2 separate regions of the Homo sapiens genome follow, and region 1 is linked to region 2. The links come from fine-mapping of genetic effects on gene expression. Tissue or cell type: coronary artery. Region 2 holds a variant in brackets; the other region holds the start of a gene. All regions are shown on one strand. Distances are from middle to middle.

The links. PIP is the estimated chance that this variant, and not a neighbour inherited with it, causes the effect.
Region 1: SLC4A5 starts here. The variant in region 2 is the best candidate, but not a certain one, in a credible set for the expression of SLC4A5 in coronary artery (GTEx, PIP 0.55).

What each region holds. Positions count from the first base shown.
Region 1 is chr2:74,340,220-74,345,602 of GRCh38, forward strand. SLC4A5 (solute carrier family 4 member 5) reads right to left here and starts at 3,197. Exons shown (of 31, transcript NM_133478.3): 1 at 3,137-3,197; 2 at 2,239-2,315.
Region 2 is chr2:74,620,809-74,626,191 of GRCh38, forward strand. All of the region lies in intron 2 of M1AP (meiosis 1 associated protein), which reads right to left. Among named protein-coding and RNA genes, the nearest start is that of M1AP, 25 kb to the right of the region's middle. The variant A/G (reference allele first, on the strand shown) is at 2,981.

The DNA of each region.
Region 1 (5,383 bases), 280 kb before region 2:
GAAATCATTTTAATAAAAATATTTCTTTATCACTTTGATTGGAGCTATGTTAAATGTAGATTAATCACAAAGAGCTGTGTTGTATGAGCAACAACAAAAAACAGTCCTATCCAAAAAAGCACTTTTGTTCTCCAAATTCTGGCATTTTCTATGCTAGGCAGGCCTGCTCTGCTTTGCTGGCTGGCTTTTTGGGGGTTCATGTTACTGAGCAGCGATGAAAGGCTGAACCAGGACCAGGGGAAGAGGGTAGCTTCATCCAAGATGGAGGAGAAATGGGCAGGAAAGAGATGATGGGTGGGGGCAGAAGCAGAGAAATTCCCATGGGGCCATGAGGATGAGATAAATGGGGTGGGTGTAGGAAAGGAATTTCCTACAGGGGTGGAAAAAGCTGGCCTTTGAGGGGAGTAACAGAGGAGTTACAGCAAGAATCTGTAAAAGAATCACCATGTTCCACTGGTGAGCTGGAGATCACAAACGTATAGTTTTCATATTCTTCTCACCTCTTCTCTTCCAGGCAACAACCCTGACGGGGTTGAGGACCCTGGTTAGCTAAATAAGTGAGGAAGAGTGGAAACCAGGGACTCCCCATCCAGACCACCATCCACCACGGGCCTCTGTTCTTTAGCAGCACCAGAAGAGGCTCCACTCCAAGTCAAGATTGAAGTGGTATCTTTAGGTAGGACTGGAAATTATAATTATTAAAATGAGACTGAGACCAAGGGTGGCTGGAACAACCTTGTGACTTGCCTAAATTCCATTCAGGGGCAAAGCAAGAGCTAGTCCCACCGAATAAATGTAAAAGAGGCTGGGTGCAGTGGCTCACGCCTGTAATCTCAACACTTTGGGAGGCCGAGGTGGGTGGATCGCCTGAGGTCAGGAGTTCGAGACCAGCCTGGTCAACATGGTGAAACCCCATCTCTACTAAAAATACAAAAATTAGTTGGGCGTGGTGGTGGGTGCCTACAACCACAGCTACTCAGGAGGCTGAGGCAGGAGAATCGCTTGAACTCAGGAGGTGGAGGTTGCAGCGAGCCAATTATTGTGCCACTGCACTCCAGCCTAGCGACAGAGCGAGACTCCATCTCAAAAAAAAAAAAAAAAAAAGAGTAAATGTAAAAGAGCAGTAAGAGACAAAAATCAAGCTGCTTTCTGATTTTACCACATAAGTCATGTTTGTTCAATGGAACAGTGCACATTAGCTTTAATTGTTAATTAACACGCATCTGTTAAATAACCTTGTATCTGACTTTGGATTTTAAGCTTTCTGAGGGCAAGGACCATGTGCTGTTTAACCCCACACTGTTCCCACAGCCTGGCAAAGTGCCTCAAATTTACACAGGGGGCACTGAGATGGCTGCTGAGTGAATTGCTGACCAAGAGGGACTGCCCCACATCAGGCAGCCCATGCCATTACTGTGCTCACACTGTGCCCGACACAGAGCAAGGGATCATAAGTCCTGGGTGGCTTGAATTGACTCTTCCTAAAAAAAGAGTCTGTGATCTAGGAAGTCCAATATAAAAAGATGTTGCGGATTGCCCAGACTTAGAGTAAGAGGGGCAGAAATGAAGTAGGCATGGATGGTAATTTTGTTTTTCCATCAGGGCTGCTCTTACTCTGGAGTAAGGAGAGGAAGGCTAAGACACAAAAGGGGGACTCCGCCCAACCCAGCTTATGTCCTGTGATACCAGAAGGGAGCATTGCAATGACCTATTAAACCTCAAACCAAGCTGAATCCATTTCTGAGTAAGAGACTCTTACAGGGCTCCTGTCCTCAAAACTATATAAAATTGCTCAAATTATGTACTTCTGAGATAATAAATTAGCAGAAGAAGCACATAGCCCACCTCTTAAGATAGGGAAGTAGATCTGAAGTAGCTCAAGAAACAAAGTTTTCTACAGATGAAGGATGAGGGAAGGAAACCCAAGACCAGTTGATTCTGGTTTGGGAAATGATAACACTGGAGAACACACTCTACTATCTGTTTCTTGTGACATCCTTTGTGCTAAAGTTATCTCCTTTGTTGGCATGGCCACCATCCCTACTTCTAGTGCAGTGGAGATGTATGAGTGTCTCCATTGCTAAGTGTTTAGTTACTCAAGATAAACTTGACTGGAGAGGGTGTGGGCAGGCATTCAGTCAAGCAACAAGCCACTCACTGAGTGCCACCAATGGTGTGGGAAAAGATGACTCTCCTTAGACTGGTCCATCCAAAATAAAGGAGGTGGGGAGAGCATACCTGGGTGGTCTTCAGGGTACTCCTGGAAACATCCATCAGCTCATGAGCTCACAGCTGAATTCCAAATCCTGGGATGCCTGCTTGGAGGGAGGGTAAAACACCATTTCTCAGGGACAGAAGCCCACAAAGCTAAGGGCACTGGGTTTCTAAGTCAGGATTTCATCACGGCTGGATGACCCTTTTTTAAGGAAAGCCAGCTGATCTCCAGGACTCCTGATACATAAGAGCTATGCAGTCTGTCACTTCTAGGGAGAGAGATGGGGACTAGCTCTGGTTCCTCATGCGTTCCTTCCCTCTCACTCCCTAAAGACCTCAAGAAACAGATCCTTGGTAACAATGCCTTCTTTGGGCCAGAAAGCTTAGTTGAAGTGTGGATTCTTATACAAGTCTCATGTTTTCTGGACTCCTAGGAGACTCAGAGGAGACACCATAGGTAACCCTTATTGAACTGGAAGAAGTGTGAAGTACTATCAACCACTGAGACTCCCATGGCTCAAGAATATGCACAGAGGTCTAACTAGATATAGGTCTCAGCCCCTGACTTTAGAAGTCTGACATTCCACAGATATGCACACACTACACGCTCCCCTCACAGAGGAAACTGGAGTAGGGGGACACAGCAGAACAAAATCGCAACACTACTACAGGAAAACCTCGTCATTCCGTTACTTGTCCTTTGCTATGTTGGAATACTTATAGATTAGTTTCAACAATCAGGTTACTCCTTATCTTTGCTCTAAGTCTTGTACAGGCCTTTAGCAAAAAGCAATAAAATTCTCATCTGACTCTTGGTGGGCTGGGGAATCTGCCTATTCTATTCAGTTGGTTCACTCACATCTCCAAACCAGAACCTACAACCACTCTGTAACTTTATTTATGTAAAATCCACTCTACTTACCCCAGTGCAGTGGCCTGTGGCTCCTGGGCCCTGACTCCAATTCCTTTAGGGTGGACCTTGCAGTTGGAACCATCCACCTCTCGTTTTTTCTATCTCTGCTATTAACATAGCCCCTCCTCTATTGCCTCACCAACTATTTTCAAACCAAAAAGTCTTTGTCTATTCATAGCCACTGTAAAAGTAACATTCATTTTTCTGTTTTTTAATCTAATGTCTGCGTCTTCAGTGGTTCTCACTGGCTAATCTAATCAGTGTGTTCTAGGGAGGTTTATTCCTTGCCTGTTCAGCTTGTCCCAGCACAACAAAGGTAAGTCATTTGCCTGGGGAGAATCAGCTCTTTTAAATCAGACAATCCTCAGGAAAGATGTCAGGACTTTTGCCTCTTTTCTTCATGGGACTGAGATTCAGGAGAACATTCCACATTCCACTGCCACACAGCTCTGCAAACCCCAAATCCTGACTCTCCGAAGAAGGATATGGGCAAGGAAAACAAAGAAGGCATTTGAAAAAACCAAACCTTGCAAGAAAAACTTTGCGTACTTGGTGATTTTTCCAGGTTTATCCTGACTTTTGGCCTCTGTTTTTATGAATTCCATTTTTGTTTAAGTGAAAAAGATACGGTGAGAGAGACATAGTGGAAAATGGGAAGTTTGGAGGAAGATGGGAAGGAAGAAGCCAGTGAGTAGGAAGTGAGAATCGGGAGTGGAGGGAGTGAGGGACGCGGTGCTGAGCGATGGGGAAGAGAAGCATGCCAGGAAGGCGCAGCGTCTCTGGGCACCCAGCATGGGGCCTGGTATATGCACACATTTCCCCTCATTGAACTCTCAACAGTCCAGTGGGGAGAGCATTCTCGTCCCCAACCTTACAGAGCTGGAACAGAAGCTCAGAGACTTACAGACAGGAAGAAAAGTAGGAGCTGGAAGCCCCATTAAAAAAGCAACTCTACCCCTCTTCTTCCAGTCTCTTCTGTGGCTTCTCTAAGGGTCTTCAGCCTCCTTATTTCAGGGTTGACCTTCTCTTTCAGATAGGAAATTTATCATCTGGTTGGATATCCTCACTTTCTTCCTAGATCACGTGGAGTTTTCCCTTAGTGGAAAAGCCTCATTCCTGGATCTAGAGCCTGCTGGTGGCAGACATGTAAAAAACATGTTTCGGAGGCCATGCCCAAGCCAACACATTAACCCAACATTATAGTTTCTGTTAATAATCCATGGAATCAAAGACAGGCAAGACTAGGGAGATCAACACATGCTGGGTCACCAGAGGCTTTCCTGGTTTTAGCACAGAAGATCTGTGACCCAGGAAACCCCTTAGTCCCAGGAAGATCAGCACAGCCTAGGCCAGAAACAGTTTCGGGCCTTAGGGAATTTCCAGCTGGTTGGGGATTCAACAAATTCAGAAGAGTGTGAGGCTCCAAAAAGAAGCACAAAGGGAGGGAAGGGTTCAGTGAAAGAAAAATCACCCTTGTTTGGAGGATTACCTTGTTCCACAAATGTTCATGGCTTACCTACCAGCCCCATGTGTTAAAGAAAAGCTTTGTGGAGAAAATGGCCTTGGAGATGCAGTGAAGGGATAGGATAGGGGTAGGATTTAGAACAGTAGAACTACCAAGGGGTATCTGAGGCAGAGGGAAGAAGCCACAAAAAATATAGACATAAGAGGTGGGAGAACATAGCATAAATATCCTGAGAACTGGAGAGCAGTTTCCCTGGCACAGGGCAGGTTTGGGGAAATAAAGCTTTGGGCATGCGACGATAGGCTGGGTAGTCTATGGAGAGGTGTAAACATCAGCAAACATGTCTGAAGTGAAAGGAATGTGGAAGGGGACTTGGTACAAGAATGGAATAATGGACTTCACAGTGGATTGTAGCACAGGTGGAAAGACCAGTTGAGACGTTACTGCCAAGCATTCAAGTGAAACCCTTTGGTTTCTACCTACCCAGGTTTTGTTCAAATAATTTGGACATTTATTTCAGACACTTCAGGTTTGGGGTTTTTTTGTCTCTCACTTCACACAGGAATTTGAGGGTGAGCTTCATCTGGTTTGGTGAGGGTATTGGAAGGTATGGGGCAGGGGCTGTCCCTCCAGGATGCACAAAGGGAACAGGTTTGCAGGCTCAGGAATCCTCCTAATGGAGGAAGGAGGAAGGAGGGAGGAGGACCTGCCCTGGCAGCACCGTGCTTTCTTCCTCGTGTCTAGTGTCCACTGGGATTTGGCTGCTGCACTGCTTGTCTCCCTGTCCAGAC
Region 2 (5,383 bases):
TGCCAGCTCAGCCACGTAAGGAAAGAATTAGTTGTTTCTAGGAATTTCTGTTGCTTCTGAAGCCAGTCAGTGCCTTGAGAATCACTTCCGCGGCAACATGCTGTCCAAACAGCTTCTCCTTCAAATCCAGCTTGAGGGCTCTAGGAGTCAGCTCCAGAATAGAGAAACACACCTTAAAAATGCGCCAGAAAGGCCGGGCGCGGTGGCTCACGCCTGCAATCACTTTGGGAGGCCGAGGCAGGCGGATCACGAGGTCAGGAGATAGAGACCATCCTGGCTAACATGGTGAAACCCCGTCTCTACTAAAAATAAAAAAAAAAAAAATTAGCCAGGCGTAGTGGCGGGCGCCTGTAGTCCCACCTACTCGGGAGGCTGAGGCAGGAGAATGGCATGAACCCGGGAGGTGGAGGTTGCAGTGAGCAGAGATCGCGCCACTGCACTCCAGCCTGGGCGACAGAGCGAGGCTCCGTCTCAAAAAAAACCCCAAAAAACAAAAAAGCACCAGAAAAGCAGCACTTTCCCAGCTGGCAAAATGAGAGGCACAGATTAACAACTGATCCAGCCGGGCCTCTGTCAAATATGGCAGCCACTGGCCGCCTGTGGTTATTATCTGAGACGTGGCTACTCTAACTGAAGGTTTGTTGTCCATGTAAAATACACATAAGACTTTGAAGAGTAGTAAAAAAGATAATATTGGCCGGGCGCGGTGGCTCACGCCTGTAATCCTAGCACTTTGGGAGGCCGAGGTGGGCGGATCATGAGGTCAGGAGATCGAGACCATCCTGGCTAACAAGGTGAAACCCCGTCTCTACAAAAAATAATAATAATAAAAAAATTAGCCGGGCATGGTGGCGGGTGCCTGTAGTCCCAGCTACTCGGGAGGCTGAGGCAGGAGAATGGCGTAAACCCGGGAGGCAGAGCTTGCAGTGAGCCGAGATCGCGCTACTGCACTCCAGCCTGGGAAACAGAGCGAGACTCCGTCTCAAAAAACAAACAAACATAAAAAAGTTTAATATTGGTTGGGGGCGGTGGCTCAAGCCTGTAATCCTGGCACTTTGGGAGGCTGAGGTGGGTGGATCACTTGAGGTCAGGAGTTCGAGACCAGCCTGGCCAACATGGTGAAACCCCACATCTACTAAAAAAAAAAAAAAAAATACAAAAATGAGCCGGGTGTGGTGGTGCACACCTGTAATCCCAGCTACTCGGGAGACTGAGGCATAAGAATCACTTAGACCTGGGAGGCAGAGGATGCAGTGAGCTGAGATCATGCCACTGCACTCCAGCCTGGGCCACACAGTGGGACTCCATCTCAAAATTAAAAAAAAAGACAATATAAAAAATTCAATAAATTTTTATATTGATTACATACTGAAATGATATTTTGGATATGTCAGGACAAATAAAATATTAAAATTTGTTTTGCCTGTTTATTTTTTATTTTATTTTTTGAGACAGAGTTTTGCTCTTGTTGCCCAGGCTGGAGTGCAGTGGCACGATCTTGGCTCACTGCAACCCCGCCTCCCGAGTTCAAGCGATTATCCTGCCTCAGCCTCCTGAGTAGCTGGGATTATAGGTGGCTGCCACCATGCCTGGCTTTTTTTGTATTTTTAGTAGAGACGGGGTTTCGCCATGTTGGGCAGGCTGGTCTCAAATTCCTGACAGGTGATCTGCCCGCCTTGGCCTCCCAAAGTGTTGGGATTACAGGCGTGAGCCACCGCGCCCGGCCATTGCCTGCTTTTTTTTTTTTTTTTTTTTCTATTTTTAAAGGTGGCTAATAGAAAAATTTGTATTATATGTGTGGCTCACATTACATATCTAGTAAATGGTGCTGATTTAAAGGATATAATTCAAGGAAGAGAGAGGGTAACTGATCACAGAGAAATGGTCTGATATGCAAGAAGGAAGGGTAAGCAAATAAATTGGTAAATATATGAGTAAAATGAAATAAATATTAGCTGTATAAAACAATAGCAGTAATGTCTAATTTGGGGGTAAAATACAGGGGCAAAAATATGCACGATGAGAGGGAGATGATCGGAGTTAAAGCATTCTAAGGTATTGTTTAGTGAAGGGTAGAGATACCAATTAATTTAGGGCAACCCCTAAAAGAAAATAAATAGATTATACACTTTAAAAAAAAATAGAGTGGAAAAAAAAAAAACAAACCCAAAATCAGATAGTAAATGGGAGAAGCAAGCAAAGAAAAGGCAGGACAAATAGTAAACACCAAGTAAGATAATCAGAATAATCTTAATAATAATAAGGTCAGTAATTACAATAAATACAAACTTACTTCCTAAAATATACCAGCTAAAAAACAAATTATTGGACTAGATTGAAAAATTCCACTGTATGTCATCTCTAATATGCATACCTAAAAACAGTAATAATTGAGAGTAAAATAATGTTTAAGGGCTGGGTGCAGTGGCTCACGCCTGTAATCCCAGCACTATGGGAGGCCGAGGTGGACAGACTGCTTGAGCTCAAGAGTTCAAGACCAGCCTGTGCAACATAGTGAAACCCCGTCTCTAAAAAAAATATAAAAATTAGCCAGGCATGGTGACCCGTGCCTGTAGTTCCAGCTACTTGGGACTTGAGGTGGGAGAATGGCTTGAGCCCAGGAGGTGGAGGTTACAGTAAGCTGAGATTGTGCCACTGTACTCTAGACTGAGTAACAGAGCCAGACTCTGTCTATAAAAAAAAAAAAAAAGAGAGAGAGAGAGTTTGAGGCATTGAGACATACCCTCAGACATTTAAATTTTATCAGGTGGGCTCCACGCACTGATATATTTTAAAACTTCCTCAGGCAAATCTAATGTGCAGCTAAGGTTGAAACTGGTTTAACTTATGTTTTATTTAATTAAACTAATTAATTTTTTTTGAGACAGGGTCTCGCTCTGTCACCCAGGCTGGAGTACAGTGGCGTGATCATGATTCACTGCAGCCTCAAACTCCCAGGCTCAAGCGATTCTCTCTCCTT[A/G]GCCTCTGGAGTAGCTGGGACTACAGGCATGAACCACCACACCTGGCTAATTTTTAAAATTTTAGTAGAGACAAGGTCTTGCTATGTTGCCCAGGCTGGTCTCGAACTCATGCGCTCAAGCGATCCTCCCAACTTGCCTCCCGAAGTGTTGGGATTATAGGCGTGAGCCACCACACCTGGCCTACAATATACTGTTAATTAAAAAAAATTAGATAATGGAATCAGCAGGCATAGTATTATCTCATTTATGTAAAATTTAAGTCTTTTCTCTGTGTATCATCTATCTATAGAGTTGTCTTGAAATAGGCTGACACTCATATCATTGTTGGAGGGATTGGTCACAAAGGCATAAGCAGGCTAGTGCTAGATCAGCATAAGCCAGCATTAAAGTAAAGGTGAAGAGGATTTCAGAGGCTGTAAAGCTGTGGCACATTCTAGTTGGTTATCAGAAAGTCAAGTTAGAGAAATAAGGGATAAAAAATTGGTAATAATTGGGTAAACTCCAGGAATCAGTAGACATATATTATTGACCTAGAACACTTGAGTATGGCTAATATTTGTTGGACATCATGTAAATGCCTTGGCTTGACAAAATCTTCAAGAATTCTATTTCTGGGCTTTCATACATGAACTTTTTTGGGTTATCTTATAGATAGATAATATGGCCCTAGGCAGTTAGGATAACTTAGATTGATGTTTCATTGGAGGTCAGGTCAAGAAACCAGAATGCAGTTTAGGGAGGGGATTAAAAATATTTAAAAAGAAAATCAGAATTCCCTTTATAAAAAATCAAATCTTACAAAGACTCCCTATATATAAATTGGTATTTTATCAGCATAAATGTATTTTTAATATTTATGTGTTTTGAATACATACATTCATAGGGTTTGAAATTCAAAAGGATATGTAATTCTATCATTTTTCTTCCCTAAATAGAAGTGATGGCAATACTTTTCTGTATCTTGCTTTTGTTGATTATTGTATTTGAGCAATCATTTCACATCATTATAGAGTATTCCATTAATGGATGAACCGTGATTTTATGTAACCAATCCCCTATTTACAGACATTCAGTTTGTTTCCAATCTTTTGTTACTGCAAACAGTGCTAAAATGAATAATCTTGTACTTAAGTTATTTTTGTACATGTGTAAATATATATGTAGGATAAGGTCCTAGAAGTGAATTTGCTACTTTAAAAGATATGTAAATTGTGATACTGTCACCAAATTGCCCTCTATAATGTCGATTTATACACTGACAAATGGCATATAAGCATGCTTATTTCTTCAAATTCTCATGAAAATGTGTCACAGAAAATTTTTGCCAATCATATAGGTGGAAAGTGACATCTCTGCATATTTGGGTTTCTCTTACTATGAATGAGGTTGATGTATTTTCATGTCTCAATGTCATTTATATTTTCTTTTCTGAAAACTGACTGTGTATATCCATCCTCATTTTCTACTGAGTTATTGAATGTTTTTTTCTTACTGAGTTGTAGGAGTTTTCTATGTATGTAGAAAATTAACTCTACATGATATGAGAAGCAAATATTTTTCCTCATAGCTATTTATCTTTAGAATTTGCATGTGTGTTCTTTTCCAAGCATACATTTTCTGTTTTTATATATTATTAATCTTTTATTTTTAGATTTTTTGGTTTTATATTATGCTTAGAAAAGCCATTCCTATTATTTTCTCCCCATGGTCTGTGTATTAATTATTAATTTATTGCCTCTCAACTCCAAATTCATCCTTCAGTACATGCTCTGTGATAAATTCCTTTAAGCATTTCTCTTTTACAGTGAGCACAATGTTAAGTTTTCTTAGTAAAGGGCACTGGAGGGACATAAAGAGGCTCTCCTATTGTTACATGCAGCATACTGTGGGTCAGCTGTGGGGTATAGGGACACCTAATGGTGACCCATCCATGCATTCAGAATTCATAGTCTTTCAGTGACTTCATAGCCCTGCCTGGCCTAGTAATCGCCTTTCTGCAGCCCTTTCAACATGGACACCATATGATTCAGGCCTCCTGCCTGTACTAATGCCTAATTCCCTTTGCTTACTTGTTCCTCCCCGTGAGAAGTTTGTCTCCTGTGGCCATCTCAATGCTACTGCTCTTCCAACATGGAGAATACGTATTCTGGGCATCCTGCCTACACTCTCTCTGCATGCCTGTAAGCCCAGCCACCACTGTAGCTCACCTATCACTGGAGAGTAGCTTCCTGCTTTCCCAGGAACTGCAGACCAACTTTAGCCTTGACAAACTAGTGAACTCTGCCATCCAGTGGGTTACAAATACACATTCTGCAATTTGGTGTGAACCCCAGCCTCGGGAAGGGAGTCCCCCTTTCAAGTTTGACTTTCCTTAGGATCTCTCCCTTAGCCCTAGGGTACCA